Homo sapiens: one gene and its partners. The protein of the gene in region 4 purifies or fractionates together with the protein of the main gene of each other region. This does not show direct contact. Each region holds a gene or a part of one and is shown on either strand. Other genes may lie near its edges. The genes, in order: FRAS1, RCN2, ZNG1A, PODN, SPSB3, DCAF8 and LRP5.

The links.
Region 1: the proteins of PODN (region 4) and FRAS1 purify together in Homo sapiens (affinity purification with mass spectrometry; one large-scale study listed by BioGRID and IntAct). This does not show direct contact.
Region 2: the proteins of PODN (region 4) and RCN2 purify together in Homo sapiens (affinity purification with mass spectrometry; one large-scale study listed by BioGRID and IntAct). This does not show direct contact.
Region 3: the proteins of PODN (region 4) and ZNG1A purify together in Homo sapiens (affinity purification with mass spectrometry; one large-scale study listed by BioGRID and IntAct). This does not show direct contact.
Region 5: the proteins of PODN (region 4) and SPSB3 purify together in Homo sapiens (affinity purification with mass spectrometry; 2 studies listed by BioGRID and IntAct, with this or other methods). This does not show direct contact.
Region 6: the proteins of PODN (region 4) and DCAF8 purify together in Homo sapiens (affinity purification with mass spectrometry; one large-scale study listed by BioGRID and IntAct). This does not show direct contact.
Region 7: the proteins of PODN (region 4) and LRP5 purify together in Homo sapiens (affinity purification with mass spectrometry; 2 studies listed by BioGRID and IntAct, with this or other methods). This does not show direct contact.

Annotation. Positions count from the first base shown.
Region 1 is NC_000004.12:78,060,323-78,063,822, forward strand, and holds part of FRAS1 (extracellular matrix organizing protein FRAS1 isoform 1 precursor), read left to right. Parts: intron 1-3,500. UniProt on the Homo sapiens protein: Involved in extracellular matrix organization. Required for the regulation of epidermal-basement membrane adhesion responsible for proper organogenesis during embryonic development. Involved in brain organization and function.
Region 2 is NC_000015.10:76,938,249-76,941,748, forward strand, and holds part of RCN2 (reticulocalbin-2 isoform a precursor), read left to right. Parts: intron 1-3,388; coding exon of another isoform or gene 3,389-3,442; intron 3,443-3,500.
Region 3 is NC_000009.12:151,557-155,056, forward strand, and holds part of ZNG1A (zinc-regulated GTPase metalloprotein activator 1A), read right to left. Parts: intron 3,240-3,500; coding exon 3,153-3,239; intron 523-3,152; coding exon 478-522; intron 1-477. UniProt on the Homo sapiens protein: Zinc chaperone that directly transfers zinc cofactor to target metalloproteins, thereby activating them.
Region 4 is NC_000001.11:53,060,990-53,065,012, forward strand, and holds the start of PODN (podocan precursor), read left to right. Parts: upstream 1-1,223; 5' UTR 1,224-1,319; intron 1,320-2,380; exon of another isoform or gene 2,381-2,570; intron 2,571-4,023.
Region 5 is NC_000016.10:1,776,212-1,779,571, forward strand, and holds the end of SPSB3 (SPRY domain-containing SOCS box protein 3), read right to left. Parts: exon of another isoform or gene 2,402-3,360; coding exon 2,224-2,401; coding exon of another isoform or gene 2,111-2,223; coding exon 1,923-2,110; exon of another isoform or gene 1,838-1,922; coding exon 1,735-1,837; exon of another isoform or gene 1,662-1,734; coding exon 1,536-1,661; exon of another isoform or gene 1,233-1,535; coding exon 886-1,232; 3' UTR 501-885; downstream 1-500. Other genes in the region: structure-specific endonuclease subunit EME2, read left to right, coding at 1-27.
Region 6 is NC_000001.11:160,256,050-160,259,549, reverse strand, and holds part of DCAF8 (DDB1- and CUL4-associated factor 8), read left to right. Parts: intron 1-3,500. UniProt on the Homo sapiens protein: May function as a substrate receptor for CUL4-DDB1 E3 ubiquitin-protein ligase complex.
Region 7 is NC_000011.10:68,424,091-68,427,590, forward strand, and holds part of LRP5 (low-density lipoprotein receptor-related protein 5 isoform 1 precursor), read left to right. Parts: intron 1-1,011; coding exon 1,012-1,202; intron 1,203-1,887; coding exon 1,888-2,097; intron 2,098-3,500. UniProt on the Homo sapiens protein: Acts as a coreceptor with members of the frizzled family of seven-transmembrane spanning receptors to transduce signal by Wnt proteins.

The DNA of each region.
Region 1 (3,500 bases), on a different chromosome or scaffold from region 4:
TTATCAGCCTAGAGAATAATTTTTAAAAATAGAAAAGAGACATTCACATGTATACTTCTTTTGATGGGATGTACCTTGTGACACCTTTGCTGACCAGCTTATGGCAGAATTTGTCGTTTTCTTCTCAGTGCACAGAGAGAACAATTGTGGTTGGTATGGGTTTGGTCTTCCTCACTTAGCTGTGTGCTTATTGAGGGGTTAGGATGGCTCCTATTAATTCTGATATCTTCAGTTCAGCTCCTAGTATACACTAAGTGCTCAAAAAATTGGTCAGATGAACAGTATTGCCAAATTATATTATTTTGAATTAAGCTTAACTGGTGGACTGGCCTCTGATTAGCTCACTAACCTTGAATGAACCATCTAACCTCTTTGCGCTATAGTTCTGTCATTTACTAAATGAGGTACATTACGTGATAGCTCTAAGATACTTTGGCTAATCATCAAACATAGAAGAAAAAGAGATCAGTATTTGCTGCATTATTAGTGGTCAATTGCAATTTTCTGGTTCTAAATTTTATTATTTTTATTATTTTTTTTTTGAGGCACAGTCTTGCTCTATCACCCAGGCTAGAGTGCAGTGGTGCAATCTCAGCTCATTGCTGCCTCTGCCCCCTGGCCTCAAGCGATTCTCATGTCTCACCCTCCTGAGTAGCTGGGATTACAGATGTGCGCCACCATGCCCAGCCAATTTTCACATTTTTAGTAGAGACAGAGTTTCACCATGTTGGCCAGGCTGGTCTTGAACTGCTGACCTCAAGTGAACTGCCTGCCTTGGCCTTTTAAAGTGCTAGGATTACAGGTGTGAGCCACTGTGCCTGGCCTCTAAATTTTATCAAAAGAAATATCAAAAGAAAAATAAATTTTTACAAGCAAATTATTGGCAGTGTTATTTTATATGGCCTTATATTGCTAAACTGGTAAAGTATTAATGCTATGACTTGAGAACTTAATAAAATCAAGAAGTCACAAAGAAGCTTCTAACATGGCTGCTTTCTGAATCACAGAAACTCTACCATGGCTTTTTCTGGAGAAATATCTTGAGTTCTGTTGACATATGGAAGTCCTGTGAAGTTACAGTAGATAAGACAGTTGCCTTGGGATAGGGAAACATCATTGAATTGGAGGTTAAGAGAATTGAGCTTTAGTCTGTGTCCCATCACTCTCCATGTGATTTTAGCCATTCCCACAAACGCTGAATCCCGGGTTTTTCCTATAAATGCTATTTAACAGGTTACATTGAAGAGGCTCATTTGATAGACAATATGTTTTATTTATGGGTGAGTTAGGGTAGTTGCACTCTGGGCTGCAGAGTTGTTTCACTGAGAGACTCTATGCTTGAAACTCAATAACTCAATGTTGGGAAGAGAAGAACTTGGCTGGAAAAAAGTAACCTAATTCTTTTATTCTGCAAGCCTTTATTGAGAGGTTCTGTGTCAGGTTATGTCCAGTAGGTGGGTACAGACATCAAAACCAAAGCCAAAAAAACCTCCTGCGCTCAAGGAGTTTGCATATCTAGAAATCATTAATGTCAGTTGAATAGCAGTAGGGATATGGGAACATTTGGTCCTTGGTGGGTTTCTCAGTATGGAAACGTTAGATGATGGTTGTAACTTTGCATCCTTTGGCTTTTGTAATTACCTGGCAATGGAAATAAAGAGGTGTTGTTGTGGACTCTTATTTTCATCAATTATATTTCCATTGCCCTCTGAAGATTGGATTCTGGGCATTACTCTCCTTATATAGTGTACATCCTTTAGTAAGGACCCAGCCATCCGTATTCACTGTTATGGACTTGGGTGGCAATGTCACCCAACTGTACTCACACAAGTAGTCATAAAATATTCTTTAACACATGGCTCAGAGTAGGGGAGGGGACTACCACATGTCAAAGTTGGAGCCTCATGCCAAATCTTACCGTAGTTCCAAAACAGTTGGCCCACTTTCATTTTAACTACTCTATTAATTGATCTAAATCCTAGTTGACAATAATCAGGACATGAGCTGTCCTGTCAGTTCAGAAAATGATTCTATTTTAAGTATTCCACAGTGCACACAGCCATATGCTGAATTATAACACAACATAAAGCCTGAACATTTAAATGCCAACTTGTGGCTGCTTGTTCCTAATGAGTCATGTTCTTGTGGTACCATGCTCTCCAAATCTTTTTGTATCTTAATGGTTGTATCTGCCACTATTTCTTTGAACTAATGGGTCTGACATTTTGTGGTGCTTGGATTTAACTTCTCTAATTTACTCAGTTTACCAACGGTTTCAGAATATATGCAAATTATATCTCAAAATTTCTCCAAAAATACTAGATTTTATACAGTCATCTCATAAAGGCGTATATTATAATGTGCAAAAGGGATTAAAAACAGACATTTACTTGTTTAAATTTTATGCAGTAACGTTTTTTCTGTGTGACCTGCAAGAAATGAGCCAGCCACACAGTAAAAGAGCAGCTCAGGTCTCAGGATCTGGGCTTCCTTCTTGACACTATAAAATTACTTCACCCTGCAAAACTTTATGCTCTTTCTCACAGGTTGTGAGGTGTTAGAACTTAAATTACCTGGCATCTCAGCTGCATTCTGTGCCTTGAAATTGGCATTGTTCATAGTTAGAGAACTACTCCTGTTGTCTCCGGTTTTTCCTCAGTTTTCCTTTGAGGGAGGCTCATTTCTTCTTCTAGATCAGCACTCTCTCACAGAATTCACCTTGAGCTGGAATTTTCTTTAAAGTTCCCTGCCATAAATATAAACGTCAAATAGACCTGCAATCATTCTTGTACTCCTGAAGAAAAAAAAATAATGAGTCGAGAGATGAATTTTGTTTTCCATATTATGTGAACTGACGGATTAGTGAAAAGACCTCCACTCTGGCTTTCAACCAGAAGCTACACCCAGTACCCATGTCAACAAACCCCTCAACTTCATCTGCTGGTGGGTGTGTGAGAGAAATATGCTTCCTTTGGATGCTGCATCTGGTATTGGGTGATGATAAATGTTTGATAGAACTGGGCATCACACTGGAATGCTTTTTTTCTCAAGAGAGTAGAAATGAGGTTTTGGAAGCTGTGTTAATGGAGGCTCATTCATGCAGCTGCCTTCCAGGTAGAACTGTTCTGTTTTAGGAAAGCTCTCAGAGGGCAAAGCTTATTTCTTTTGGAATTGTACAATACAAAGCAACCCAAATTGAATTAATTCCTTTTCCTAATGATATAATTTTTCAGCAGCTCTACACCATTTTGGCTTGAGTCTCCAGCAGATGCATGGCTTGCCCAGGTATAGATGTGGTGCCACACTCAGTGCTACTTTATTTTTTTCATACTGCAGTGAGTTTATCATGGCTATCTAAACTTCCAAAAATAGGTTTTGATATGGGTACTCAGATACTTCTTAAGGTGCTTGATTTCCTTTGGAGCTTTGAAAAGAAATTGACTTTGGAAGGTAATGCTGTGGAGAGCAATAAAATTATTTGAGGATAGTCTTATTTTAAA
Region 2 (3,500 bases), on a different chromosome or scaffold from region 4:
TTATTGTATTAAACAATATAGTGTAACAATGATTTACTCCTCATTTAAATTGTAATTTGTCTTATAAGTAATCTAGAAATGATTTAAAATATTTGGGAAGATATGTGTAGGTTATATGCAAATGCTATGCCACTTTATATCAGGGAATTGAGTATCCTTGGGTTTTGGTATCTGTGGGAGGTTCTGGAACCAATTTCTCACAAATATGGAGGGAGGAGTGCATAACAAATTTACTATTGTAACCATTTTAAAGTGTACCATTCAGTAGTGTTAAGTACATTCACAGTGTTGTGCAGCTAATCCCCAGAACTCTTTTCATCTTGGAAAGCTGAAACTCTGTACCTGTTAAACAACACCCCATTCCCTCCTTGGTAAATGCTTTCTAAGTGTGCTATTTATTTAGAATCATATTGGCCGCTTGAACTCTGTAAGCCACCACTAACTCTAAGTTGGTTAATTCTCTGCTAATAACTACAGCATCAATGTGGAGGTTTGGGGCTCCATCCTCAGAGCCAGTCTGCTTAGCTTCACATTTAGCTCCAGCACTTCACGGTTGTGTAACTTTGGGCAAGTTATTAAACTTTCATGTGCCTCAGTTTCCTCATCTCCAAAAATGAGGATAATAATTCCCATTCAGGCCAGGTGTGGTGGCTCACACCTGTAATCTCAGCACTTTGGGAAGCCAAGGTGGGAGAATCACTTGAGCCCAGAGTTCGAGAACAACTGGGCAATGTGGCAAGACCCCGTCCCTATGGATACATTTTCCTCTTAAAAATTAAATCCTAACTAATCTAAAGCTGTCTAGTTAACAAATGCCCAAACAAAATTTAAAAATTAGATGGGCATGATGGTCCGTCCTGTGATCCCAGCTATTTGGGAGGCTGAGGCAGGAAGATTGCTCGAGCCCAGGCAGTCAAGGCTGCGGTGAGCCATATTTATGCCACTACACTGCAGCCTGGGCAACAGAGAGACCTCATTTCTAAAAATAAATAAATAAATAAATAAATAAATAAATAAATAAATAAATAAAAATTTCCTCTTTAGGATTATAATAGTGTGGATAAATATTAATAAATGGTAGCAGTTGGAGGGGCAAGCAGTTCTGTTTTGATTTAAAAGAATATTGAAGAAAGCATTTACAGTTCACATAAATTTATATTTAATCAACTTTTTAAAACTTTATGCATTTGTTAACTATCAGCTTTAGATTAGTTAGGATTTTATTTTTTAAGGGGAAAATGTATCTTTTGTTTTCTTTTTATTTGGGTCTTCATTCTACAGTGGACTAAAGTGAGTAAAAATCAGTCTTTTTACTGCTTGTAAATACTAAAGGAAAAACAAGTAGTGATAATGAGATTTGGGATCATCTGTCTATTAAGTATCCCCATTTACTATAGGAATTAACTTATCTTAAACCAATGTAACTTATCTAAAACCAAAGCATGGTGTGGTGTGGTTTCCCTTCCTAGGAACAACAGAGAAGTTAAATACAGTATTTTAAAATCTTGCTGGAATTAGATTCTAATTATGTTTTCTATTTTTATTTTTTGTTACTCAAAAGACTTAATTACTATCCCATTAAAAAATAAGAAGTGCATGTTCCTGTATTCTTAGAAGGGGGTGATGTAATAGATGGTGCTGAGAAGAAAATCTTCACTTTGAAGAGATACATGACTCATAAATTGTTTATGAACAGTTCTTTTAAAAGGTGTCTGGTTCTAATTCTGTGTTCTCCACCAGCTACTTAGAATGTGTTGATTATAACACTCTGCTTTTAAAGGATGAATTAGATGAATCTTAACAGCCTAAAGGAATAGATTGATCCCGAAAATGAACACTTCAATGGGAGTCCTTTTGGTTATTTTTTTTTTTGACAGCCTAGGAATATGTCTCTATCTTCATGAAGTTCTAATCATATGTTTTTAGAATTTGCTATAAGTAACTTCCTGTGTGTATGTGTAGTCCCAGCTGCTCAGGAGGCTGAAGTAGGAGGATTGCTTGAGCCCAGGAATTTGAGGCCAGTCTGGACAACATAGTGAAACCTTGTCCCTTTAAAAAAAAAAAATAACGTCCTAAAAATTGATGTGGAGTGTAAAGATGAACCCAGAAACCATATGCATTATTTTTCTAAATAAAAAATAACGGATGAGGAATGAATCAATCTCAAAGTTATAGACTAAACACTATACCATAAATAAAATAATCATAAAAAGTAATTGGATATGTGAATAAAATAAAGTTTTCTATAAGAAAGTCTGTTATAACTGACGAAAGTCAGCTTAATATCTGAACTTCACCTTTTTTTTTTTTTTTTTTTTGAGAGGGAGTGTCGCTCTGTCACCCAGGCTGGAGTGCAGTGGTGCAATCTCGGCTCACTGCAGTCTTAGCCTCCCAGATTCAAGCAATTCTCCTGCCTCAGCCTCCTGAGTAGCTGGGACTATAGGCACGTGCCACCATACCTGGCTGATTTTTGTTTTTGTTTTTGTTTTTTTTAGTAGAGACTGAGTTTCACCACGTTGGTCAGGCTGGTCTCAAACTCCTGACCTCAAGTGATCCACCTGCCTTGGCCTCCCAAAGTGCTGAGATTACATGCGTGAACCACCATGCCCAGTCTGAATTTTATCTTATATTTAATAAGTTTTCATATAGGGAATAAAGATAACCCTTTCAGGCTGTGAAATGCCTGAAGAAGCATTTCTTTATAATATAAAGAACAGTTATGGTCAACACAGGATAATTAAAGTTTGGGGATCTATCTGGCAAAAGTTCAAGTGTTCTTTGTTTTTGTTTTTGTTTTTGTTTTGAGACGGAGTCTTGCTCTGTCACCCACGCTGGAGTGCAGTGGGGCAATCTTGGCTCACTGCAACCTCTTCCTCCCAGGTTCAAGCAATCGTCCTGCCTCAGCCTCCCAAGTAGCTGGGACTACAGGCGTGTGCCACTATGCCCAGCTAATTTTTTAGTAGAGATGGGGTTTCACCATGTTGGCCAGGCTGGTCACGAACTCCTGACCTCAGGTGATCTGCCCACCTCGGCCTCCCAAAGTGCTGGGATTACAGGCGTGACTGCTGAATGTGCATGTATAAGCAGTATTTATTTATGTAAGATATAACCTTGCATGTGGCTAATCAGAATTTTTAATGCCTAGTCATTTGTTCTAGTATCACACATTATATATTTCCTCATGTAGAATCATTAGTCTACCAAAAGATGGCAGTTTTGTTCCTCACAAGTTTCTGTTGTAATCTAAAAATAAATGATTATGGTAGCTTTTTTATTACTGTACCTAACACTTTTTACCCTCTACTAGAATACAAAGTTTTTATATACAAGAAAAAAAAAGAGTGTTGAAGTTTTATGAAACTGACCATCTTTTTTGTTATTTTTTTAGGAATTTGCCATTTGTAAAAAACAGTCTTTCTGTTTTTGGCTTCTTCGATTTAATGTGAGCTATTCTTATTTTGTGTTCTTCAAATGGCCGTGAAATGTGAACCAGAAAAAGC
Region 3 (3,500 bases), on a different chromosome or scaffold from region 4:
GATGTTTTAGGAACAGAACCTAGAGAAAATGAAAGTCAAAATTTAATAAAAGAATTTGTCAGGAACTTCAAGGTAAAGACTCCATGTATTTTTTGGCAACTATAAAACACTAAGAAGGCTTTTTAAATATTAAAAAGCCATTTAAACACTTCAAATTAAGATTCCTCAATATACTTCAGATTTCTGTACTGAGTTACCCTCTCGAGTGTTTGGAAGTCTTTTCTTCCTCATTAAGCAAACACTTACACAGTGTTATCATGGCTTTGTATTCTTAGTTTTGAAGACAGGCAAATGTACTAGCCAAATATGCCAAACTAACTTATTAAGAGCATTCCAAACAACATTTTGGATCCAATTCTTTTTAAATGCACTTAGATCTTTCTTATATTAGAATCAAGCATATTTGTCAATTATTTAATGTTTATTATTAATAACTAAAATGATTTGTTATTAATAGGAATAGCTTTTTTAAAGTACCTTGATCTTTGTGTTTCTAAGATTTGTCCTAGTCCATTTATGGATCTGAAATAAATAATAAATGAGGAAGACAAAGTTTAAAAGTAAAAATTAACTTTTTAAAAAAGTATACAAAGTATATTGTTTCTAAAACAGGAAATAAGCATACCCAAATACATCTGGAACCAGAAAAAAATTAAAAACAGAAAAACAAAACTTGCTTTAAAAAATAATTGTGATTTTCCTTCAAACAATAAATCACATATATTCCACTCATACATTAATAAAACATATATGCAAAAATTCGCACAACTGTCAGATTAAGGGCTACTTTGTGGTTAATAAAAAGACACTTCACTTTAGAAAAAATCATTCATAAATAGTCAGTTATCCTAGTGTTCTTAAAAATGAGTAGATACTCAAAATTTTTACGGTGGTCACTTTTTTCCTCAGGCATACATGGTAGAAATGGCTATATACACACTAAAAATAAAAACCTAGTTGCAAGTTGCTTTGCCCCCAGCCTGTCCTTAGTATTCACAGTAATTCTAAGTCACACATCCCAGGTTCCTTTATAGAATAACCTCGTCAGTTACCTAATTAGGCTCTCTACCCGTTATGCCTGTTCTCCCTCTTTTGATACTATAGAATATGGCTTCGTATGGCACCAAAAAGTACCTGTTAAATTCTTTTCAACACACTGTACACCTCATCTATTTATCTTTTCCATTGCCTATCATCAATCATCAATTCTCTATCATGAATTCAATTGTCTTTAGGGTTACTTACCCAAGATTCTTGCTACTTGTTCAAGTTTGTTCTCATGGGTAAGGCTTCCCACATATAATGATTCTGAGGCAAGTCTCTCCACTATTTTACAAAATTCTTAAATCTTCTTTTTTGAATACACTCTAGTCTGATGGCTAATTCCTCTCAAACATGTTTACCTTTTTTCACCTCCCCAAATATCATTCTGAGTCAGTCACAAGTCTGATATAAAGGGAGGGTAAAAGCCAAAAGGGTGTGTAATTTATCAAATTGCTTCTTCCAAATTCATTTCTAGTACTGTTAACAAGCTGGCTAATAGTCAATATTGTCAGTGTCAGAGATTTAGCTTAGGTCTCTATAAGGATATAAAAGTCAAGTAATAATTATCATTCCTTTTATGCCAAAAACATTTGCTAAATAGATTGTGTTCTTCTTAGCAATCACAATGGTGCACAAGATTTATGAAGAGAAACAAGATTAGAAGACCAGTGTCAAAAAATGTAAAAGCAATCTTCATTCATCACTTTCTCCTTTTCAAAATCAGCCATCTTTTTCTTTCTTCCCTTTTTTACTATACCTTGAACTTACTATGTAAGCTAAGAAAAAAATTACATAATAATAGCTAACAGAGCACTTACTATGTGTCAGCACTGTGCAAAGTTTACCAACATTGTCTCATGTAATACTCAAAGCAAACTTATGATAGGCATTATGCCTTTTACAGAGGAGGCTTTAAAAGGGTAAATAAGCTCCCTAAGAAGACAATGAGAAACAGACCAAGGATTAGAACCCAAGCAGATTCCAAGGTCTGTGATCTTCAACACTACGCAACAATACCTACCCTCCACGTGGAGACATTATATTTTTTTATAGTAAAGTTTAAGGACATTACTATTAAAATAAGATGAAATATGTGGAAAAAATATGAATTTCTTTCTTCCACAATCATTAATCATGGCAAATAATCTCCTAATGAGCCTTACCTTTATTGATTCAATTGATAATATATACTATATGAACTGAGATGACAGATTCAAAATCTAATGTCAGTAGAACTTATAAATACTAAGAATAGTAATTTTGAGCCATCACGCTCAAAGCATTGTACACATTAAAGATAACCAATACTAATAGCTACCGAATGTCTCTCTGTATAGGGCTTTTATTAGTTCAGGTCTTACAAAATAATTCAAAACAAAGCCCCTGAACTATAACCTCATTTGAAAAGCCCATCTTTGTTTTCAAAAGGAATGGGAGTCTCCAGAACAGTCAGCAAAATGACTGTTAGCACATATTTGAGCATCATTCATATTGTCCTGATTGTCCTATGCTGATCAGCCTTGGCTATGGACAAAGAAGATATTAAAGCAAGCTGGAAGACAAGGCATGGTTGACAGTTAAGGAAGATGAAGTCAACAAGAGTTCAGGGAAAACTGAGACCACTTGAGTCAGGGAAGACTTCACATAGGAAGGGGGGAGAGACAGAATAGGCTCTATAGAATAAATTAAAAAAAAAAAAAGCAGAACAAGAAAGAACTCAGGGATTGGCAGAGTGAGAATACATTACGAGTAAAGACAGGAACTGACAGGATGCATCCATGGGAAAGTGAATTAACCATCCTGGGTAAAGTTAGGGAAGACTGACATTAGGAAAGAGTCAAAGAGAAGACAGGAAAAGAAAGATGGAGTGCGAAGACCCTGAATATCAGTCTATTAACTGTGAACTATATTCTGCAAGCACTGGGGACTAATTTTATGTATTACCATTTATATAACAATTAGCCATCAACAATATATGTGATTCCCTAACGTTCTTGAAGCAGCTCAACCTTATACCTTAAGTTTCTACAGGGCAACAATCAGAGTAAAAAATATTCTGTGTATACAACATGGATCTGTAGGCACTTAACACACTTATCATTTCGTACCTAATTGTCGTTCTTAATTTCTTTACATCTTCTTCTGGAACCAGGTCTGTTTTATTAATGAGAATGGCATCTGCCAAAGCAACTTGTCTAAAATAGCAAACAGAGAAATGTTAAGAAACTTTAAATAATATACACGCATGCAGATTAATACATCAAAAGAGGAATGTTAACAAATCAAAAATAAATAAAAACGCCTCATGTAGATCAATATATCAGTTAAGAATTATCTAGTGCTCTATAGGAGTGACTCAGTTTACTCCTAATCCGCTAATTTTTCAATGTGGATGAATTGTGTTCATTACTATGCAAGTTCAGATTTCACATTACCCATTCGCAAAGTATTTACTA
Region 4 (4,023 bases):
GGAGAAGGGTAAACCTGGGGTCAAAACCCCAGCTCTGCCAGTGAATGGGCATTTTACTCAGTCAAGTATCCTTTCTGAGGCCATCTCTTTTCTATAAAGTGGGGCAGCAGCAGTTCTTCCTTTGCGGAGTTGTGAAGCAGAGCATAATGCATATGGTATAACCTCACGGGGGCGGCAGCCAGTGAAAAGTCTGGAGCTGCTTTACAGGGGCCATTCATTCATTCATTCATTCAGGTTAAGGTTGAGCAAGGGGTCCCACGTGTGACTTATGCATCCTTCTCCCTCTTCAGTGGGAGGACAGCCAGGTGAGGCAGCTGTGGATGCCCTGCCCACAGGCCAGAGCAGGTAAGGGGAGGAGGCTTGCTACACAGTGGAGGTGCCAAGTACCACCTAAGCCCAGCCGCATTGCCTGTTCCACCGCCGAAGCCCCTGGCGCCAAACAGTGTTGCTTCAGCTGGTAGTAGTTAATACTCCTTTACTTGGAAACATTTTCAGTTCCTGGGAGCAATATGGTGGTGTGAGGTCTCACTGTTCACCCGCCCTGTTTCTCTGTGACTGGGATCTGCATGTCCCCGACTCCGGCCCAATTTACCATTCTTCAAGGCTCACCAGGCTGTGGGCCCAGGGCCAACAGGGATGGGAGTGGAGGGTGGGGTGGAGCGTGGGGAACTTTTCCGGGAAGAGGCCCAGCAGGGTCTTGGCTGGCGGCCCCATTAGCCACGGCCCAGGACCCCAGGGTGGGAGAGTGAACGGAAAGGTACTCGTGCCTGGAGCGGTTGCAACATCCTCTGTAATGAGGAAGATACAGCTCAGAGGCACTGGGTCGAAGGACCCCTCTCCCCAGCCCTCCTTTCAGGTGTCGGGGCCTAAAGGGGGTCCAGTTCCAGTGCGGAAGGCTGGGAACTAGGAAGCGTCGCGGACCAGACAGCCCGCCTTCCCGGTCTCCCGGGTGGGGGTTCGGGGGGCGTGGTGCGGCGGCCGGGGCTGAGAGGGGTCGGTGCGGCGGCTCTGCCTCCCCGGGAAGTGGGAACCGGCCAAGTCCCGAGCGGGGAGGGGCAGGCTTTCTCCTGCCCGCGCCTGGGGGGACCCTACGCCTGTGTCCGAAGGAGGCCGGCGTCCAGCAGATGCTCCCGGGGCGGGTGGGGAGTGGGGGAAGGGGGCGGGAGAGAGGCGGGGAGGAGAAAACCCACAACAAAACTTGCGTCGCGGAGAGCGCCCAGCTTGACTTGAATGGAAGGAGCCCGAGCCCGCGGAGCGCAGCTGAGACTGGGGGAGCGCGTTCGGCCTGTGGGGCGCCGCTCGGCGCCGGGGCGCAGCAGGTACAGGGCGCTGGCAGCCGGGGTGGGCCGAGGGGCCGGGGGCTGAGCCCGGGCAGCGCACTCAGACGTCCCCGCCTCTCCGGATGGCTCCAGCAGCTGCCTGGGGCGGGCCCGCCGCATCTCACCCCCTCTGTAGGACCCTGCACCCAGGGCACGGCCGGAGATCTCCTCCTCTGGAGTGCGACCCCTGCGCAGTCAGGACCCAGGCAGGGGCCTTCTCCTCTCTGAGCAGAGGCTGGTCCCCGTCCCCAGGCCCCTCCCGCTGCGCACATCTGGAAAGAATCTGAGGGCGGTTGGGGGCGGGGGCTGGAGTGGGAGGACGCCGGCGGGCGACAGGGAATGTGGGGGGCAGGTGGAACTGCGTAGGGGCGGGGACCCCTGTCATGAGAGCCTGGGCCCGAAGTATCCCCGCGTCTTTCCACGTCAACTCATCAGGCCCCCTAGCGACTCCAACCTCCACCTCTTTATAGATAGAGAAACTGAGGCCCAGAGAGGGGCAGAGGTCTGGCCCCAGGGCGCGTCGGACGCCGGGTGGGTCCCCTCCGGGGCTCGGCTTCCCCGGCCACTGTGCCGCCCCAGCTTAGTGCCAACCACTAGTTGAGCTAAAGGTCTCAGCTGGCGGTCTGGAGTCCGTCTATCTGTCTACGCGGCTGCTTCCCAGCCGGGACAGCTGGAGGGAGGAAGGGGTGGGGGTCCGCGAAGCGCGAGGAGCGAGATCCGCGCCTTCCTGCGAATGAGGCAGAAGCCCCAGGTTCCAGGTCCCCGAGCCACAGCCCGGCCTGGGGCGGGGGACGAGATCTTGGCGTTGGAATACCTGACGCTCCGTCAGGTGGAAGAGGAGGTGGTGGCGGGGCTGCGAGGCTCCTGGCAGCCTCGGGGGCTGGGGCTAGGAGAGGCAGCCGCAGCCTTTTGGAGAGGAGCAGGCGCGGCAGCAAGGGGCGAGCACCCCGGCCCCGGTGCGCGCGGCACTGACTGAGCTGGTCCGGGAGGCGCGGAGGATGCTCACCCAGCGCTTGGAGTGAATTACTGACCTGTCTGCCCTTCGATTACCGGCTGGCCAGGGAAGGGGAAGCTGTGGTCTGCCCTGCTCCACGAGGCGCCACTGGTGTGAACCGGGAGAGCCCCTGGGTGGTCCCGTCCCCTATCCCTCCTTTATATAGAAACCTTCCACACTGGGAAGGCAGCGGCGAGGCAGGAGGGCTCATGGTGAGCAAGGAGGCCGGCTGATCTGCAGGCGCACAGCATTCCGAGGTAGGTCACTCAGAAGAGCCCGTGGACTGCCCTGGGAAAGACCAGGGGGGACTGCTCTGGGGGTTCTGCTCCCTCATGTCCACTCTTAGGGCCCAAGACCCAGTCTACTCTAGCCTAGAGTGCAAGTTAAGAAATGTCAGAGTCACACGACTGTTTTCATGTCATCTGTGGGAGCACACTTTATCCCTTCTGTCTGAGTCTAGGATAGGGGATTACTAATGGTGGCACTTTTAGGCTTGGTGTAGTCATACATGCGAGTGCTGGCCGTGTCCTGCTTGGAACCCTTAATGAGTCCCTATCACCAACACTAGCATGGCGGTGGAGGCCCTTGGCCACCCAGGCCTCCCGCCCTGTTGACCCTTCCTTAAACACACGTCCCTCTCCTCTAGCCCCACCCCTACCTTTTGATCACACTCTACCTCTGCCTGGAGGGCTGTTTCTCCCACTCCGTCCACTTGGAGAACTCCCGCTCAGTCTTCAAGGCCAACTCAAGGCTCTGGGCAGGAGTCAGAAGACCCACATTTTACTCTTGGCCTTGGCTTTAACACACTAATTTGCAAACTGGGGGAGTCAGAGCAGATCATACTGCAGATCTTTAGATCTTTTCCAACTCTGCCTTTCACAAAGTCGTTCATTCAGCAAACATTTCCCCAGCACCCCCACTCCATGCTTGGGGAGACAGGGGAGGCCCAGCTGAGACTTGAAGGATAAAGCCAGCCAAGGTTGCTGTGGAAGCACCCAGAAACACCCTAACCCAGCCAAGGGGGCAGGAGAGGCTTCCCTGAGCAGGGGCATTTCAGCAGGAGCTTTCTAGGGATGGGCAGCAATGCCAGCCCTTTGTGCTTGAGCTCCAAATCTGCAGAATAGAAAGACGAACATGTAGTCCCAGGATTTCTATTAGAGTCAATAAGATGCAGCTGTTTGGGGCCCAGCACAGAGCAGGTGGTCAGTTGATTTGTACTGACTTTGAGTGGAGAAGGAAGGTAGTGCTGAGGGCTGAGGATCCGCCTCTTGATTTGGGGCTCCCTTTCCCTTCCTTCTTCTAGTCCTACCTTAACCTCACACTTTGGGCCTTGAGGTTTGGTTCCCTGGTAGTGGTCAGGGGAGACAGTGGGTCCCACTTACTTTCTCAGTAACAGTAACCCCTGGTATGTCACACCTATTTGATGCCAGCGGTGACAGGCTGAGACTGCTATTTCATTTAATTCTCACAAGTAGCTCCCAACTCCATTTCTTAGACTAGTTAACAGAGGCTCGGAGCAGTAAAGTGGCTCATCCAGGCTTACACAGCAGTCAGAATTGGAACCCATGCCCTTCTGTCTCTAAAGCTCTCCATATGAGAAACACTCACTGCTGGCTGAGCTTCCCCGCTGTCCAGGGGTTTGAGATGTTCCTCACCAGGTGGACTTGAAACTCCTGGAGACCAGGGAGCTCCCCTGTTCTTCCCCACACA
Region 5 (3,360 bases), on a different chromosome or scaffold from region 4:
GATCTCCTGCTGGACCTGGGCTCCTGACCACACGTGGGACCACCAGGACAGCATGCAGCCTTGGGGACAGACCAGACACCCTGGGCGGTGGGGGAGGACCCCCAGCCACATGTGGACCCTCAGCCTGGGTGGGTTCTCTGGCTGAGCAGGTCTGACCTCAGGGGAAGGGTGGGTGGTTGCAGGGGAAGTTTTAGGTAGCTGGGAGAAGAGGGGCTTCTGGCTGGCAGATGGCTGGCGGTTCCTGTGCTGAGTCCTGAACACGTAGGCCCCAGGGGAGGCCTCAGCAGCAGGGCTGTGCCCCCCCAACACACACACACACTCGGCAGGGACCAGAAGGCAGCTCCAGGGCCCCACTGCCACCTGGAGGCTTGGGGTGTGGCACCCTCAGCCAGAAGCAGTAGGGGACTCCCAAGGATGTGGAGGGGCAGTGAGGCCTGGGAGAAGGCCCAGGCTGCTCGCAAGCCCGGCCTCTGCACGGATACGTTTCAGCTCACGCCATGTGGGTGTTAGACATCAACTCTACATTTATTGCAGTCCTTTAAGTCTATGACGGCGGGGCAGCCGCTGACAGCATGCAGAGCAAGTTAGGAAAAACCGAGGCCCTGTGGGAACAGCAACGCGGGCTCCAGCCAGGCTCTCGTCCTCGCAGCCTCCCACAAGACCTGGGGCTCAGGGCAGCCGCTTCCCCACCCAGCACAGCAGCAGAGGGGCCCTAGAGCCCCCACAGAAAGGACTGTCCCAGCCTCGGGAGCAAGAGATGGCTCCCTCCGGACGGGCCTCATCCAACTCCGCCCTGGAGTGTGGCTGGAAGGAAGGGACAGAGAAAGAAGGGACAGAGGAAAGGGGCTGTCCCAGCCCAAGAAGGCAGTTCCACTGGGAAGTCAGTCAGGTCCGGCGGCAGCGCTTCCTCTGGCAGGGCCGAGGCTCGCGACTGCTGGGGTGGGCGGAGGTCGCTGCCTGGGGATCGGACACTGGAGCCTTGCGGCGGCTGCAACTCATGCTCAGGACCCAGCCCAGCTTGTTGTGTAGCACCTGCTTGAGGCCCGGCGGCAGCGGCAGACCCTCCAGCGTGTCTCCCGAGTCTGGCCGCAGCTGGCGCAGGCGGTGGCAGCACAGGTACTGGAGGGAAGTGGCGCTGGCACAGGAGCGGGTGACCTTCATGCTGCTCCGGGCCGCCGTGGAGCACACCATCGGGTAGAATCTCTTGTTCTGCAGCTTGGTGGCTGCCACACCTGGAAGGGAGGGGCCCAGCCTGAACCCCAGGCAGGGAAGGGGCCAGCTACTGGGCGCAGCCCCTCAGACCTCACGCTACAGTCACCCGGGTGGGCAGCTGGCACAGCTGAGGCAAGGCAGGGTGCACGCGCTGGCCCTGCCACTCCAGCCTGGCCTCACTGTCCCACCCCCTGGGACCCTGGGGCCTCAGGCTTCTGGGAGGAACCCTTTCAGAAAACCTCAGTGTCCCCTGGGCTGGGGCGGGGTGGCTGCCTCCCTCGGGGTGACAGCTGAGAGGAGCTCAAGTCCTGTGACGGCCTCACCTATACACTTCCTGTTCTTGAAAAAGGTGAGTGTGCCGTGCCAGGTGTCCAGGTGCACGCCAATGATGGAGCCCTGGCCGAACCGCGATGAGAAGCTGGTCTTGTCGCCCTTGTGGTGGAGGAGGCCTGGGGGCAGCCAGGGTCGCAGTGAGCCCGGGAGCTCCAGGCTCGGCCCCGCCCCACCCTGGGCCTCACGCACCCGTGTAGGAGAGGCCCCAGCTGTCCTCATCCCTGCCCAGCAGGCTGCAGAACGTGTGGCGGTATTTGTCCAGGTCCACATCCGACGTCCCGATGCCCACCATCTAGGAACAGGGGCCAGGCAGAGGGCGCGGGGCTGGGCTGCCGGAGCCAGGTTCCCCAGAAGCACCCTGGGCCGAAGCAACTTACCATGTCGGTGCCGTAGACGGGAGAGGTCATCTTGATCTCCCAGAAGTGCTGGCCCTCCCCCAGCTCCTTGGTGCCCCGGATGGCCGCTGTGCCGCAGCTGTACTCCATGTGGAAGCTGACCTTACGGTTGTCACAGCTCAGCAGGGTGGCTGATGACTTATTTAAGTCATCCCAGACCCAGTCGAAATCTGCAAGAGAGGCCCAGGCTGGGGCAGCCCTGAGAGCTCCATGGGGCTCTGCCCTGCCCACCCCCAGGCCCGCCCGCAGTGCAGTCCCAGCAGGGGCTGGGCCCCACGCTCACACTCGTCTTCCTCTCCGCAGCGGCAGTCCCTGCCCCGGTGGGCCGAGTGCAGGCTGCTACAGAAGGAGGCCTCGCTCTGCCCAGCACAGTCACAGAAGGACTCGCCGGTCACGGGCACCGCACTGGGGATGGATGGCGGCAGCGTGGAGTACTCGGGGTCGGAGTCCGAGTCGCTGTGCTGGGAGAGAAGGGCCGGCTGTTACTACCTGTTGCCCGCTCTCTACCCTCTCACCCTTGCCCTCTGTCCCTGTCCCACCCTGTCCCTGACCCACCCAGGAAAGGATGGGGGTCCAGGCCTCCAGGGACTTCACAGTACCCCGAGCGCACAGCCCAGGCTCCCTCCCAACGGGCTCCGGCTCTGCCCCATTCTGCATGACCAGGAGGGCCCTGGAGGCCCAGCCACAGAGCAGTAGCCAAGGCTGCCTGGCCTCCAAGTGGTTTCTAGACGGTGGATAAGCCCCAGGTCCACCCCACCTGCCCAGAGCTGAGATGGTGTGGACACCTTCCCTGCTAGGCCAGCCCTGCAGGGGCCCCCAGGCAAGGCCACCACCCCCACACCAGGCCCAGCTGCAGCCACCCGGCCTCAGGGCAGTCCCCACCACACTGTGGCCCAACGACCTTCCTGTTACCTGAGCAGACCTGGCTCACCACAGGGTCCTACTGCCCAGTGCCCACTACAGGCCCCGCCCCTCCTGGTGCAGGTTTCAGCTGTCACCTCCCTGAGGCTTCTCCAGCCCCTTCACCCCTGTTCCATTTTTCTTCTTTTGCTTCACTGAAGTTCTCCTTGGTCCTGATTCTTGGCCTCCTCCCACCAGAACGTGAGCTCCTTGTGGGAGGCAGTGCCCCTCCCAGCCTCCTCCCTGTCACAGACTGTGTGGGGGCCACCCAGGGGCTGAATGGACCAGGGGGTCAGCAGGGAGAGTGCTAAGTGGTGGCGGGGGGCCTGTGGCAGAGGCCTTGTGACAGTGAGGGTTGAGGGCTGGTCCAGAGAGATGATGTGATCCCCAGGAGAAGCCACAGGGGACCATGACATGGGCGCCACCAGCTTCCAGGTGAACGTGGACCTATCGAAAGCCAGCTTCAGGGCAGGACACTGTCCTTTCTGGAGGGGATGGCCCCACCCCACAGACAAGGCAG
Region 6 (3,500 bases), about 110 Mb from region 4:
TTGTTTGTTTGTTTGTTTTTTGACGAGTCTTGCTCTGTCACCAGGCTGGGGTGCTGTGGCGCGATCTCAGCCCACTGCAACCTCCGACTCCCTGGTTCAAGCGATTCTCCTGCCTCAACCTCCCGAGTAGCTGGGATTACAGGCATGCGCCACCATGCCCAGCTAATTTTTGTATTTTTAGTAGAGGAGGGGTTTCACCATGTTGGCCAGGGTGGTCTCAATCTCCTGACCTTGTGATCTGCCCGCCTCAGCCTCCCAAAGTGCTAGGATTACAGGTGTGAACCACCATGCCCGGCCAAAGAGTTCTTTTTTCAGCTCCACAGCTGGACCGTCTTAATAATATGACAGCACAGATGAAGAGTTTTAAACCTTTTGTTGGCTTTTCTTTCGTATCTTTTTGGCAAGGGCACATGAAAATTAAGTACTGATAATATCACAATGAAAGCAGCTGTGTCATTCAGACCAGTGACCATTTTAGGTTTGATGAACTTTTCATTACCATCATCCAGGGTCTAAATTCTCCATTGTAAGGTAAGGATTCTCCAGGGTGGTGGTGAGGTGGGTTGAGATTGCATTTGTATCATTTGTGTTTTTATGAACTCTGAAGATCCATGTCGGGTGAAGGAAAGGATGGGAGGAGAAAAGGAAATACTTTGAAAGAGGGATAACTTGGACTGTTTATTTCCTTATGTGCTGGGTAAGAATGTCCAGGTGACATCTATATGTAGTAAATCAGTATTTCTAGTCTGTGGACCACACTGTAAACTTTTTATCTTTCTAAAGTTTTTTTTATTTTTGTAGAGATAGGGTCTCACTTTGTTGCCTAGGCTGGTCTCAAACTCCTGGGCTCAAGTGATCTTCCCACCTCAGCTGAGTAGCTGGGACCGCAGGGGCATATCACCATACCTAGCTAATTTTTGGTTGTTTTTTTTTTGTTTGTTTGTTTTTTTAAAGAGATGAGGTCTTACTTGCCCGGCTCAAGTGATGCTCCCATCTTGGCCTCCCAAAGTGCTGGGATTACAGGCATAGCCGCAGCACCCAGCTTGAAGATATTTTTATATTTCCAGGGTTTTAGGTGTTTACTTAAGAATTGTGACATCTTATTAGGTAGTATTTCCTAGGATGATTAGAGTGGGAGGCTAAGAATGCTTGTGACCTTTTAGTTCCCACCACCAACCTCTTAAAGTGCAGTCTATTTATTTATTTTTGAAATAGGATCTCACTCTGTCACCTAGAGTGCAGTGGCACTATCATGGCTCACTGCAACCTCGACCTCTTGGGCTTAGGTGATTCTCCCATCTCAGCCTCTCGAGTAGCTGGGACTACAGGTGCACGCCACCGTACCTGGCTAATTTTTGTATTTTTTGTAAAGATGAGGTTTCACCATATTGCCCAGGCTGGTTTCAAACCCCTGGGCTCAAGCAATCCTCCTGCCTCAGCCTCCCAGAGTGCTGGGATTACAGGCGTGAGCCACTGCACCCTGCTAAATGCAGTCAATTAAATGTATAAGAATCTGCCAGGCTGAGTGCGGCTGGCTCATGGCTGTAATCCCAGCACTTTTGGGAGGCCAAGGTGGGAGGATCACTTGATCCTAGTTGTTCAAGTCCAGCCTAGGCAATATTGAGACCTTGTCTCTACAAAAAGTTTAAAAAAAAAGCCAAGCATGGGGCAAGTACTTGCAGTCCCATCTCCTTGGGAGGCTGAGGTGGGAGGATTGTTTGAGTCCAGGAGGTAGAGCTGAGATTGCGCAGTGATCACTGCAGTGCGCTGAGATTGCGCCTCTGCAGTTTAGTATGGGCAACAGAGCGAGACCTAGTCTCAAAAAAAAGAATCAGTTCCAGTGCCATGGTCCTTAGTGTGGAGTAGGACCAACCTAAGACAGAAGCTTGTCTACAGAGAGCTGAAAGAAAGCAGCCTCTTTGTTGCCAGTTTAAAACAATACTGGCATTTTAAAAGCAAACAGATTCTAGTAGGAGACATTGTATAGAAGCGCACCCTGTTGTGAAAGACTGGGATCTTGAGTTTCGTGCTCTAAGTCTTGTATTCTATCAGGGGAGTAATAGGCTTTTAAAATCATAAAGTGACTATTAAAATGCTTTCAGTAGATAGATTCATTACTCCATTATTTCTACTGTATAAAAGTTTATTCTAAACATGTCTAGGAAATATCCAGATTATAAAAGAGAAATAACGGTATCCAAACCAGACTTTTTATTGCATAACATTGGTGTTAGAGTTAGTTTTTAAGTCTCTGAGATTGAATTAGCTTTTTTTTTTTTTAAAGCAGATTATCAGTGAGCTAAGATAATCTGCTGTTTACCCTCACCTATTTGGAACACAGGCAACTGAATTAATTGAATCAGCAATAGGCATGGGGTAGTGACTTTGTATATTTTCATTTTAGAGCCAAAAGCCAGTGAGTTTTAGATTAGCTTTATAGTAATATTAAAAACTTCATCTTTTATTTTTACAAATGTAGCCAAGAAACATCATTGCTGTTAAAATCAGTCAGAAAAGGAGGCTACTTGCTCTTTATTGATTTAGTCATTCTGCTCTTGGAGTGAGTAGAAAGTCTTTGAAAGCTTTTCAAAAATTAGCGAGTGATGAATTTTATGAATTAGTCACTTCTTTGCAGCAGTTTTTTTTTATCTCTACCTCTGTAGGACATAGTTCCTGGGCCAGAAGCCAGATTTCTCAAGTACCATCTAACCCCAGGAATGTGTTATGATACAGATAAATTAATGAACGGAGGCTGCCTTGAGGTTGCCAATAGGGCATTGGGGAGTAATTAATATGACAAAGATGTCATCTTATTAATGAAATGTATTAATAGTATGTCTAGTGGATTGGGTCAATGCAAACATTTTAGATTAGATATTTGCTGTTTATCCTCTGAAGTTACTGTTTAAGGAAGTCTGGCCAAGTTCTAAAGTGAAGCATACATATTTGCCTCACGTGCCATTTTTTTTTTTCTTCCTGGCTTTTTCTTAGCCATCTGGAAAGCTACTATAGGGTTTACCTCTAATGGTAGTCAAGTTACTGTATTCCTCTGGTGTACTTTAATGATTGCCACATTACCAGGTATGTTTTGTTAACCTTACTTAGAATCCAACATTAGACCCTTTCTTCTAACCTAACCTGTAGGAAGGCACTTCTTGAGGTTTTAAGCCTCTCTTTAATGTTTTATTGTAAGTTGTACCTTGGGAGCATCATTTTTTCATCTTAAATCCTCTCCAGTTTAAGAAAAATTTGAAATATAAATGGCAAAAACTGTTAATGGCAACAGACTTCTGATGTAAATGTAAATTGAGATGGAAACAAAATGAAAAGTAGATTTCCCTAGGAATTAGTTAAACTGAGATAAATGGTCCTGGATGTTTTTATAGAAAGTTCTCTTAGCCAGGTGCAGTGGCATGTACCTGTAATCCCAACTACTCGGGGGGCTGAGTTGGGAGGACTGCTTGAGCCCAGGAGTTTCAGGCTGGCAACATAGCAAGACC
Region 7 (3,500 bases), on a different chromosome or scaffold from region 4:
TCCCACCTGTTGGTCGTCAGAGCTTCTGGTTGGTGGGAAGGCACCCAGGACCTTGAGGTCTCCAGAGAGAAAAGCCAGGGAAAGAGGGAGACCGAAACCCATGTGACATGAAACTCAGGCTCCAAACTGAGCACGGGAACGTTTGGGGACAGGAGCGCGATGGCCTTCCTCAGATAGCTGGGGGGCTGGCATGAAGACGGGAGCTACAGCCAGCACAGGTCCTGGGCCGGGAGCCCAGAGATTGAGCCCTGACTCTGTCACTTACTGGCCACGTGACCTTGGGCGGGTGGCATAGCCTCTTGGAGACTCAGTTTCCTCATTGGTAGGAGTGACGGCCACAGTGGTGCGGCCTCTGCAGCACACGGGGGGCTCGGTGGGCGGAAGCCCCGGGTCTATAAGGCGGCTGTGCAGGAGCCAGCCGAGCTGGTCTCCCAACAGCCAGGGCTCCGGGGTCCTTAGCAGCTGTGGGGGGCCTGCACCTGTTTCCCATGGCTGCTGTCAGAAATTACCAGAAGCCAGGTGGCTGAGAGTAATGGACACTTGTTCTCTCACAGTTCCTGAGGGCTGAAGCCCGAGATCGAGGTGTGGGCAGGGCCCTGCGCCCTCTGAAGGCTCTGAGGGAACCTTTGGGCTTCTGGTGGCTCCAGGCACCCCTTGACTTGTGGTCCTGTCACTCCAGTCTCTCTGTCTGGCTGCACATGGCGTGGCCTCTTCTGTACCATTGAAGGACACTTCAGTTGGATTTAGGGCCTACCCTCACCCATTGTGGTCGTATCTTGATCCTTCATGACATTTGTAAAGACCCTGCTTCCAAATAAGCTCACATTCTGAGGTTCTGGGGTGAGCGGGAATTTGGAGAGCATTGTTCAACTAGTATAGAATGTGACCTGTCAGCCTCGGGCAGCCCTGAGAGGCAGGGGCTTTCCACAGCCCAGCTGGGTGCCCTGGGCTCCGTGCTGTCCGAGGAGACGCCATCCCCACACCCGTCCTTCACCCGCCACCCTCCCGCAGGTACCTGTACTTCACCAACATGCAGGACCGGGCAGCCAAGATCGAACGCGCAGCCCTGGACGGCACCGAGCGCGAGGTCCTCTTCACCACCGGCCTCATCCGCCCTGTGGCCCTGGTGGTGGACAACACACTGGGCAAGCTGTTCTGGGTGGACGCGGACCTGAAGCGCATTGAGAGCTGTGACCTGTCAGGTACGCGCCCCGGGGCCTGCCCTAACCGCAGACACCCGGCCTTCATTGTCAGTAATGGCAGCAGCTGCCACATTGTCCGAGACCTGCCGTGAGCCCAGTGCCGCGCCAGGGGCTTTGTGTGTAGCGTGTTTTGTCCTCACACTGACAGCTGTAGGCTGGGGTTCTGAGTGAGCCCCACAGGGCAGAGGCAGAAAATGAGTCTCAGAGAGGGTGAGCGAGCTGCTTGGGGCCCCACAGCAGGAGATGGAGCAGGACTGCAGCCTAGCCTCTGCCCCCAGCACCTGCGCAAGAAGCTGCTCTGCTCTGGACTGTGTTAGGCTGCGAGGGCTGGAGAGAAATGAGAGTTGGTGCTTAGAGAGGGGGCGCAGGTCCCCATGGCTTTTCCTCTTATGATGAGGTAGATGGGTGAAGGGAGGGGCCATGCTTGCAGGGGCCAGTGACCGAGGCCCGCCGTTGGAACTGATGGCCTTCATCCCGAGCCCAGCCCAGGTGGGAGCAGGGCTTTCCGAGGGCTTGTCTTGGGTCGGCCTGCTTCCAGGGACTCTGCTGCAGCTCCCACCCCTGTCCAAAGCATGGAATCCCCCAGGCTCCCTGGCAGTCCTGTCAACCTCTGTCCTCCCAAGCTGAGTGTGGGGCAAGTTCTGGAGGTCAGCACTGCTCAGGGGGGCCCACGGGCTGCTTGCAGGGGCCAACCGCCTGACCCTGGAGGACGCCAACATCGTGCAGCCTCTGGGCCTGACCATCCTTGGCAAGCATCTCTACTGGATCGACCGCCAGCAGCAGATGATCGAGCGTGTGGAGAAGACCACCGGGGACAAGCGGACTCGCATCCAGGGCCGTGTCGCCCACCTCACTGGCATCCATGCAGTGGAGGAAGTCAGCCTGGAGGAGTTCTGTACGTGGGGGCTGGCAGTGGGGTGGGCAGGGTGGCCTCTAAACCCGACCCCTGGAGGAGGCTGGAGGCCAGTGCAAGATCCTGTGTGGCCTCAGCCAGGCGGTGGTCTCTGCCAGATGCCAACTGTTGCCCGCTGGGGTTCAGCGACATGTCCGAATGTCCCGAGGCCTCTGAGGTTGTTTTCTTTTGCCGCAGAACAAATCACCACGAACAGCGTTTTAAGACAACACCAACTCTTTTTTTTTTTTTTTTTTTGAGTCAGGATCTTGCTCTGTTGCCCAGGCTGGGGTGCCCTGGTGCAAACACAGTTCACTGCAGCCTCGACCTCTGGGCTTAATTAAGTGAACACCTTGCCTCAGCCTCCCAGGTAGCTGGGACTACAGGTGGGCACCACCACACCTGGCTAATTTTTTTTTGTAGAGACGGGGTTTCCCCATGTTGCCCAGGCTGGTCTGCAACTCCTGGGCACAAGCTATCTGCCTGCTGTGGCCTCCCAAAGTGCTAGGATTATAGGTGTGAGCCACTGGCCTGACAACACCCACGGATTGTCTCTCAGTTCTGTAAGGCAAAGTCCAGGCACAGCGTGGCTCACCTGGGTTCTCTGCTCAGGGTCTCACGGGGCCAGAATCAAGGTGTCAGGAACGCTGGGCCCTCAGCGGAGGCTCTGTGGAGAAATTAGCTTCCTTGCTCACTCAGCAGGTAGCAGTTGTGGGATCGAGGTTCTGTTTTCTCTCTGGTTATTGGTCGGGGACCACTCTCAGCTCCTAGAGGCCACCACAGGTCCTTGCCCCGTGGCCCTCTCTGCCTCAGCAGTGGGGGCTCCCTGCGTCAGTCCCTCCCACACCTTGAGTCTCTCTGATTTGCTTCTAAAGGGCCCTGTGATTCGGCTCAGCCACCTTTAGATTAGGTTAGCCTCCCCTTTGATAGACTCCAAGTCGGCTGATTAATAACCTTAATCACATCTGCAGAATCCCTTCTGCCACATAAGGTCATGACGCCGTGCTGGGGACTGGGGTGGGAAATTACGGGGTCATTTAGGATTCTGCCTGCCACTGCCTTGCTGTGTCCCAGGGCTTGGGGGAGGGGCCTCCACAGCTGGGACCACAGTCCTTCCTCCCCTCCATGGTAACCATCTGAGGATTACTTGAGACCAGCCTGGGCAACATGGTGAGAACCCATCCCTACAAAAAATACAAACAAAAAGGGACCAGGCTGGGCTTGGTGGCTCATGCCTATAATCCCAGCACTTTGGGAGACCAAGGTGGGCTGATCACTTGAGGTTGGGAGTTCGAGACCAGCCTGCCCAACATAGTGAAATCCCGTCTCTACTAAAAATACAAAAATTAGCTGGGTGTGGTGGCAGGCGCCTGTATTCCCAGCTACTGGGGAGGCTGAGGTGGGAG